Linked DNA regions of Homo sapiens: regions 1 and 2 are each linked to region 3. Evidence: fine-mapped expression QTL. A gene starts in region 3. Each other region holds a variant in brackets. All regions are shown on one strand. Distances are between the middles of the regions.

Region 1 (2,751 bases), 28 kb after region 3:
CCCAGCCCTCTCCTCCAGATCCAGAACAGGGGCTTGGGGCATTAGAGGAAACCGCCCTCCTTCCAGGACCCCCGCCGACCTCCCTCGTCTCTGCCCTGGGTCGACTCTGTCAGCCCTGCTGCCTGGACAGGGCTAAGCTCACCTCCAGGCTCCGTGGAGGTGGAAACTGGCCCAGCCGCCCTCCCCAGCTCTCCCCGAAGTGCCTTGGAGAGCAGGGAGAGCAGGGAGTGTGTTCCCAAGATGCCCCTCCACCCTCAGGAAGCCTCGGGCCATCCCTATGCAGCCCATCAGGACCCAAACCATTGGAAATACAGGGAGATTGTTTTCAAGGTTGGAGCTGTCTGATGGTGGCGGTGATACTGCCCCTGTCCCCCGCCTTGTTGAAACAGAGACTTTCAAAACTGCCCACTGAGGATGTCATCAAAAGGAAGCAGGGATCTTCTGGGGGGCTGTGGGGGGTGGGGGGCTGGAGGGTGGTCTGACCGTACTCGCCTCCTAGGTCACTTCCCACCTATGTGGGTCTCAGGCCTCGCCCAGGTGCGGGGGCAGTGAAACAGTCTGTTCCAAATGCCCAGGGGCGGACGGGTCATACCTGGCGTGCGGACAGAGTTCTGTCCATTTCACGGTCACGGCTAATGGGGACAGTGTGGTTTCCCAGGGCCTTGAAACCCAGAGAACTGCCAGCTCTGGTGAACTGTGTCTTGTTTCCTTCCCGATATTTCCACAGATTTGACTTGTCTGATAAGGATTCCTTTTTCGACAGCAAAACCCGGAGCACGATTGTAAGTATCGCACGCGCCTGGAAACGGCTCACTGGCAAGATGGCCCTGGGGATCCAGATGATAATTTCATTTTGGTGAAACTCCTCCCGGTGGAAGCCGGCTCTAATTGTCTGTGACAGAAATAATTAGAATAATGAAAGGGAGAGGGCAACGAGGGGCCCAGGGGATGGTCGTGCCCCAGGCAGGGGCAGCTGAGAGGAAGGGAATCAGCACAGAGCTTGGGAAAGCAGGAGGGAAGCCAGACCCCTGGAGTGATTTCAAAGGTCGGTGTTTCTGGATCTGTGCAGCTCCCAGCACATGTCTCAGAGCCGCCTCGTGGTGGGATTGTGCGTGCCTGACCATCAGGCCACGATTCGGGGCTTTCAGGGCAGGCAGGTGTGGGCAGGAGGGAGGGTTGGTGGAGGCAAAGGCGCGTGGGTTGAGATCTCTTTCCAGGCCTTTGCCAGAGGAGCCAACTGAGGTTTGAAATCTGACCAGGCCACCCTGCCCTATTCAAGGCACTGGCTTCATGTTTATCCAACCTGTCCACCAGCCAAGCTGGGGCTGTGCATGGCTCAGGACCCAACTTCTATCTAAACAAGAAATTAACCTGGCAGCCAAACTTTCGCTGTTATTCTCTATTCCCTGCCCAGAAAGCCCAGCCTGGCCGGGCAGAGACAGAGGGCTG[G/A]GAGGAGACAGTCAGGGTGACCTTGTCCAGACAACTACTCCTCATGACCACCACCTGAGACTGGCAGGCAGCCAGCAGGAGGTCGGTGCAGGTCGTACCAGCACGGGGGGTTCTGAGCCACTGCTGGGACAGACAGATCTGGGGCAGGGAGGAGGGCATCTCTCTCCCAGAGACCCTGGAGGCCAGTTTCTAAATGGCCAACATGCTCCAAAGAAACTGATAATTCATAGCTTTGGCCTTGGTTAGTCAGGCCTAATAGTCATCAAAATCCAACAGCCTGCAGGGTTGGCTGAGGTTCTAGGCAAAGCCGTGGAGAACTGACAGCCCTTCCCCACTCCTCTCCTCCACACCATTCAATCTGTCCTGGCATTGGGGTGGTCCAGTGTGCAAGTGGATAGGAGTCAGAGAACAGCAGTACTCGATAGGGAGAGGCCCACTGTGCTGGTCTTGGATTTTAGACCTTTGGCCTGTGGGCGCTGGGGAGCCATAGAAGGTTGTGGAGCTAGGTTGAGGATGTGGTGAGATCCGTTCCAGAAGGATCACTGCCAGTGGCCAGCTGTGGGAGGGTAAATGACTGGTGGATGAGGGCTGGTGGCAGTGGTCATAAACATGGGCCATAACTGCATGTGGAAGGGAGGAGGTGGTTACAGGAGAATCAGCAAGGTCAGAACCGATTAGATCTGAGGGATGATGGGGAGGGAGCCATTGAGAACAGCCTAGTGGGCGATTCCTTCCTTCATTCAGCAGGGATGTATTGGGCACCTGCTGGGTGGGAGAAAAGAGGCACTGAGGACATTTATAATCCGGCAGGTGGGGAGAGGCAAGCTGAGCTAGAAGACAGAGCCACCGGGAGGGTGGTGGCCTCAAGGCCTGGTTGTTAAGGGGACCCTGGACCTATTCCAATCTGAAGGGGACAAGTGCTTCTGGGAAAAGGAACAGCCAGGGCGGAGGCCCTGTGGCTGCAGGAGTGAGTTTGGAAAGTGAGAGAGGCAGCCAGGGGGCGGGGTTGTTGGGACAGGTGGGTCCAGTGGAGGCGGCGGGGCGGGGAAGCGGTCAGATGGCCTGGGCCAGGGGGAACTGGAAGGACGCTGGCCTTGCCTGAGAGAGTGGAGGCAGAATTGGCATGCTCTGAAATGCACGTCTGCATAGCACGACCAGTTCTTCTCACCCCAGTTTACAGATGGAAAAACTGAGGCCGGGAGTGGTGATGTCGCTGGTCCAAAATCACACAGCTGCAAATGGCAGAGCTGGCGCCAGGTTCCAGGCAGACAGACTCCCAAGCCGGAGCTGCTGAGGCCACCA
Region 2 (2,751 bases), 160 kb before region 3:
GAGATTACACCACAGCACCCCAGCCCTGGTGACAGAGCAAGACTCTGTCTCAAAAAAAGAAAAAGAAAAAAAAGAAGAAAAAAGGAATGCCACTAGTCTAGAATCAAGGTGTCTGCAGGGCTACATTTCTCCTGGAGAGTCTAGGAGAACCCAAGCCTTGTCTTTTCCAGCTTCCAGAGGCAGCTTGTGCTCCTTGGCTTGTGGCCCCTTCCTCCATCTTCAAAGTCAGCAGCACTGCCCCTCCTGGGAAGATTTTCCTCTCTCTCCCTCTCCCTCTCTCCCTCTCTTCTATCTCTCCCTCTCTCCCCTCCCTCTCTCTCTCTCTCTCCTTCTCTCCTCTCCCTCTCTCTCCTGAGCCATGCCCTGGCCCTGCCCTGCTCCGCCCTGCCTCTCTCCCTCTCTCTTCACTCTCTCCCTCTCTCTTTTTCTCTCTCCCTCTCTTCTCTCTCTCTCCTCTCCCTCTCTCCTCTCTCTCTCCTCTCCCTCTCTCCCTCCCTCTCCTCTTTCTCCTCTCCCTCTCTCTCTCCCTCTCTTCTCTCTCTCTCCCTCTCCCCTCCCTCTCTCTCTCTCCCTCTCTTCTCTTCTCCCCCGCTTCTCTCTCTCTCCCCCTCTCCCCTCCTCTCTTTCTCTCTCTTCTCTTCTCTCTCCCACTCTCTTCTCCCTCCTCTCTCTCCCTTTCTCCTCTCTATTTCTCTCTCTCTCCCTCTCTCCTCTCCCTCTCTCTCCCTCTCTCCTCTCTCTCTCTCTCCCTCTCTCCTCTCTCTCTCCCTCTCTGGCCCCCTCCCCTTCTCTCTTCTCTTCTCTCTCCCTCTCTCCTCTCTCTCTCCGTTTCCCTCTCTCTCTCCCCCGTCTCTCCCTCTCTTCTCTCTCTCCCTCTCTCCTCTCCCTCTCTCCTCTCACTCTCTCCCTCTCTCTCCTCTCTTCTCTCTCTCCCTCTCTCTCTTCTCTGCCTCTCTTCTCTATCTCCCTCTCTCTGTTTTCTCTTTCTCCCTCTCTCCTCTTTCTCTCTCTCCCTCTCTCTCTCTCCCTCTCTCCTCTCTCTCTCCCTCTCTCCTCTCTCTCTCCCTCTCTCTCTTCCCCCTCTCTTCTCTCTCTCCCTCTCTCCTCTATCCCTCTCTCTCCCTCTCTCCTCTATCCCTCTCTCTCCCTCTCTCCTCTATCCCTCTCTCTCCCTCTCTCCCCCTTCTCTTCTCTCTCTCTCCCTCTCTCCTCTATTCCTCTCTTTCTCCCCCCCCCCCCCGCTTCTTCTTGTCACATCTTTTCTGTGACTCCCTCCTGCCTCCCTCTTACAGGAAGCTGGAGGTTACCCACGACCGTCTGGGATCATCTCCACCTCAGAATCCTTGCTCCGTGACATCGGTAGAATGTCTTTGGCCACGGAAGGGAACATGTTCATAGGTCCTGGGCACTAAGATGTGGGGGATTCCATTACTGGTGGGGGGTTCCATTATTTGGTTGACCACCGACCTGGTACACAGTGGGTGCCCCTGGGATTTGTTGTAGCAGGGAGCACTGGCTGCAGCAGGAGCCTGACCCTCGCGGGAGCGTCTAGCCAGCCTTGGTGCCAGGTAGGCCGTGGCATTTAGCTCTC[C/T]GGCCCAGAGCCTCAGCAAGGCCACGGCGCTCGGCCAGAGGAACACAGCCACCCAGCGGAGAGCCAAGACTCAGCCCAGACGTCCCAGACGCCAGGCCCTTTCCTGGGTGCCCTCAGCACGCCCCACCCCCACCCCGTGAGGACGTCTGCCCGGGCTCCGGATGCCCCAGGGCCTTGGACCACCAGGGACTGTGCCTTAGGGGCAGGGTGACCCTGCGGTGCTGGGCGTTTGACACGGCCTTTCCCCCTGGAAGCCTCTGTCGCCCTCGATACAATGTGAAGAGTTGGGCTGTAGGGTCAGGCGGAGAGATTGGGGTTCACATCTGGATTCTGGCATCCACGGGCAGAGCGACCAGGACCAGTCTGAGAAACGGGGTCCTCACTCTAAACGTCCGGACGGCCCCTGCCTTAGAGGGAGTGGGGGATGAAATGTAGCAATGTCCCCTGCACATGGAGAAGCCTCCTCAGGCGAGGCCGGGGGATCAGGCAGCTCGCGCCCGGAAGGCTTCGCATATAATGCACCGTCTATTTCAGCTCGCCGGGGTCTTGCTGCAAAGTTGCGCAACAGAAAATGTGAGAGACGCGGCAGTCACTCCACTAAGCGGGACAGGGCCAGGCCCGCCGCCAGGGGGCAGCATCGCCTCTCCCGGCCGAGCCTTCCTGGGAGTCCCGCGGGGGCTGCTCCCCAAAGGACAGAGCTCCGGGTTCATGGGGAACGGGGTGCCGAGAAAGCCTGCCTGGCCCTCCCAGGCCCCACTTCCTTGTTCTTACAAACCTAAGGAAGAGTGGGCTCCTGGGATTAACTCGGCGTCACGAAACCCTGGCCCTGAGGGACGGACCTCTCAGCCTGGGTCAGGCCAAGGACATCTGAGTGGCCCCACCGCGAACTCCTGTGAGCCCCTGGAGCGAGCAGTGGCCTCGAGTCTGTGCCCACCTCCTTTCACGCCCCTCTTCCCTGGCTGGCCATCTTGGCATCCCTCCTCCCCTGCCACTCTATCTTGGCCTCCTGGGCCGGCTCCCACCCCCCGGTTCCCATGCTTCCTCCCCGCAGAGAGGGACCCAGAGGTGCCACCACCTTGGGGTGACCAAGTCCCAGTGCTATGTTCGGCCCCAGGGCTCCTTCACTTCACTCACAGGCGCCTTTCCCTGCAGCTCACACA
Region 3 (2,751 bases):
TCAGGCACGCTTAAAACTCCCATGAGAAGGCAGAGGCTCTGAGGCCCAGGAGGCTCTGAGGCCAAGGAGGCTGGCACAAGGTCACAAGGCTGGAAGGTGCCAGAGCTGGAGCTAGACCCCACCCCTTCTCTCCAACCCTATCCTAGCTGACTCCAGGTTCCATGCTTGGAACCATGGCACGCTGACGACATCGTGGCCTTTAAAGACAATTTTCTAATCACTTCTGTAGGCCTTGAATGTTCCCCAGTGGCCATTTAACAAGCAATTATTGAGCATCGGCTGTGTGAACCTGGTAGACAACCCACTGTAAAATGAGACGGAATAAATGAAGTGCTAGTTGGGGTTCAGGCAGGTTCTTTGGATAGACAGGAAGGCCTGCATATTTGGGTGGGAAGGGGACAGTAGGGGAGAATCCAGCAGGACTTCCTGCAGGAGGTGCTATCTGATGCACACCGTGAAGAACTCATAGGATGTGAGAGGCAGAGGGACACTTTATTTCCACTGGATGTGGTGGCCAGCATGGCCCCTGGGGCTTAACCTGAGTATGGTCGTCCCCTGGGGACCTGCCTTATTCTCCTTAGGGGAAGAAGACTTGAAGATCTGCAGTGTGCCAGACCCCTGCTAGGTCCGGGGGTAAGAGAGATCAAAGCCACCATCCCCCCCGCTCCGCCCCTCCAGAAAGCAGGACAGCCTTGCCCAGCAGTGGGGAAAGCTCTGCAGGAGCCCCGCCCCACCTCAGAGGATGCGGACTGGTCCTTGGCCCTCCTAAGCCTGAGTGTCCTCTGCAAAATGAGGACCCGCATTCCAACCTTGCAGGTGCGGGGTTAAATGAGATGATACACACTCACGCCCTACATCAGGGACGCTGCACGCACCTGGGCACAGAACACTAAGCACTCCGTAAACTCGGGGGCACCGGTAACATCAGTGGGCTCCAGGGAGATGACTGCCCCGGGAGAGACTCCCCCAGGAGCGCGGGCAGCTGGAGGGGGCGGGTCGGCAGGAACCAGGCAAGCTCCCCGGAGGAGGTGAGTGCTGAGTGACAGCAGGAGTTTGCCAGGGTGGAGGGAAAGGGGCAGAGATCCAGACTCCAATCTCAGAAGCTTCACTCCCCCCGGAGGCGGAGGTGACGCGCCACAGAAGCGCCTGCCACTCGGGGACTTTATTTCAGGTGGGGCTATTGAAAGTTCCCCCCTTTCACACCCGGTATGAAAACCCTCAAAAATCCAAAGGGGCACTTTCCCTGGATAAAAATAAAACTTGGAGGGGCCCGCAGGAATGGAATACTTTTTCTTCCTGTGTTTAAATTTCTACGGAAAATCTGACCGGCGCGGCCACCGCCCCTGCCATAGGCGGGCGGAGAGCGCTTATATCTTTAAGGCAAAGGCGGGCCGGCTGGCGTCCAAGTTCCTGACCAGGCGCGGGCCGGCCCGCGGGACCAGCAGCCGGGTGGCGGCGCGATCGGCCCCGAGAGGCTCAGGCGCCCCCCGCATCGAGCGCGCGGGCCGGGCGGGCCAGGGCGGCGGGCGGAGCGGGAGGCGGCCACGTCCCCGGCGGGCCTGGGCGCGGGGAGGCCCGGCCCCCTGCGAGCGCGCCGCGAACGCTGCGGTCTCCGCCCGCAGAGGCCGCCGGGGCCGTGGATGGGGAGGGCGCGCCGCCCGGCGGTCCCAGCGCACAGGCGGCCACGATGAGGGTCAACGAGAAGTACTCGACGCTCCCGGCCGAGGACCGCAGCGTCCACATCATCAACATCTGCGCCATCGAGGACATCGGCTACCTGCCGTCCGAGGGCACGGTGAGTGCGGGCGGCCGCGACCCGGGCGGGAGGGCCGCGCACCTGCGCCTTGGCGAGGGCGGGAACCGGGCGGCGGCAGGGCCTCCTGGGACCCCAGGGCGGGGGCCGCACCCTCCGCGCAGGGTTCGCGGCGCCCACCCGCGCACGTGCGTGCCGGGAAGGGCGCGCCGGCCCTGGCCAAGTGCGTGCGCCCCGCCTGCGCTCTGAGCGTTCCGAGCGCGGCGCCCACTCCGCCCAGCGCAGCGCCGGGCCCCCAGGCATGGCCCGGCCTCGGAGCTCTGCGGCCCCGAAGCCGCCTCACCCGGGGCTGCAGCTCGGAGCCCAACCAAGAGCTCACGGCTGGCGCCCTGGATGGGACCTTCCCTTCCTGGCTCGCGGCCAGGGGTACCTGTTGGGGCAGCCAGGGTGAGGGTGATGGTGGGGGTCTTGGGTGAAGGCCAAGTTGGTCGCCACTCCACGATGATGGTAACTGCCAGGCCCCACTGCTTCACTATCCTCTGGGGCCAGAGTCCCGAGTCCTCACTTGCCAGAAACGCATATTGTGCCCAGGGCACTGGGCCTGGTACCCTGGCATTGGCACCGAAACTCTCAAAGCCCAGGGTGTCAATCATTGGAGATTGCTTTCTACCCTCGCCCCTGTCTCCCCTGGGCGCCCAGGCCTGGTTCAGGTGGGGGCACTGGTTGGAAGCCAGTCATGTAAGTTGGGGACCCCATCCTGAGGTCCCCAATATCCCCACCACCCTCCCCAGGGCCAGACCCAGAGGTCTAGGTAACCCTATGTTTTAGAGAGGGGGGCAGAATTCTCCCAGGAAGGGTTTGGCTTGAAGGACAAAGTTTGCCGGAAGAGGATAGGACAGGGCTGGGACTGGCTATCTCCTCTTGGGGTGAGGGAAGCTCTCAGCAGCAATTTGTGGGACCTAAGGACAGAAGCTCCCTTCTACCTTCTTCCCATGCAG

Alleles and levels. Positions count from the first base shown, and alleles are read on the strand shown. Sizes are in standard deviations (SD) of each study's normalised expression.
For the expression in thyroid of the gene that starts at base 1,398 in region 3, allele A in region 1 goes with a lower level than allele G (small effect, 0.26 SD a copy in GTEx).
For the expression in tibial artery of the gene that starts at base 1,398 in region 3, T is the high allele of the variant in region 2 and C is the other (small effect, 0.28 SD a copy in GTEx).

What was found. PIP is the estimated chance that this variant, and not a neighbour inherited with it, causes the effect.
Region 1: its variant is fine-mapped to the expression of ANO1 in thyroid (GTEx, PIP above 0.99).
Region 2: its variant is fine-mapped to the expression of ANO1 in tibial artery (GTEx, PIP above 0.99).

Annotation. Positions count from the first base shown.
Region 1 is chr11:70,105,007-70,107,757 of GRCh38, forward strand. ANO1 (anoctamin 1) reads left to right here. Exons shown (of 26, transcript NM_018043.7): 5 at 728-782. Among named protein-coding and RNA genes, the nearest start is that of ANO1, 28 kb to the left of the region's middle. The variant G/A (reference allele first, on the strand shown) is at 1,450.
Region 2 is chr11:69,916,793-69,919,543 of GRCh38, forward strand. No RefSeq gene overlaps it. Among named protein-coding and RNA genes, the nearest start is that of FGF3, 99 kb to the left of the region's middle. The variant C/T (reference allele first, on the strand shown) is at 1,592.
Region 3 is chr11:70,076,920-70,079,670 of GRCh38, forward strand. It overlaps ANO1 (anoctamin 1), which reads left to right and starts at 1,398. Exons shown (of 26, transcript NM_018043.7): 1 at 1,398-1,795. The coding sequence starts at 1,688.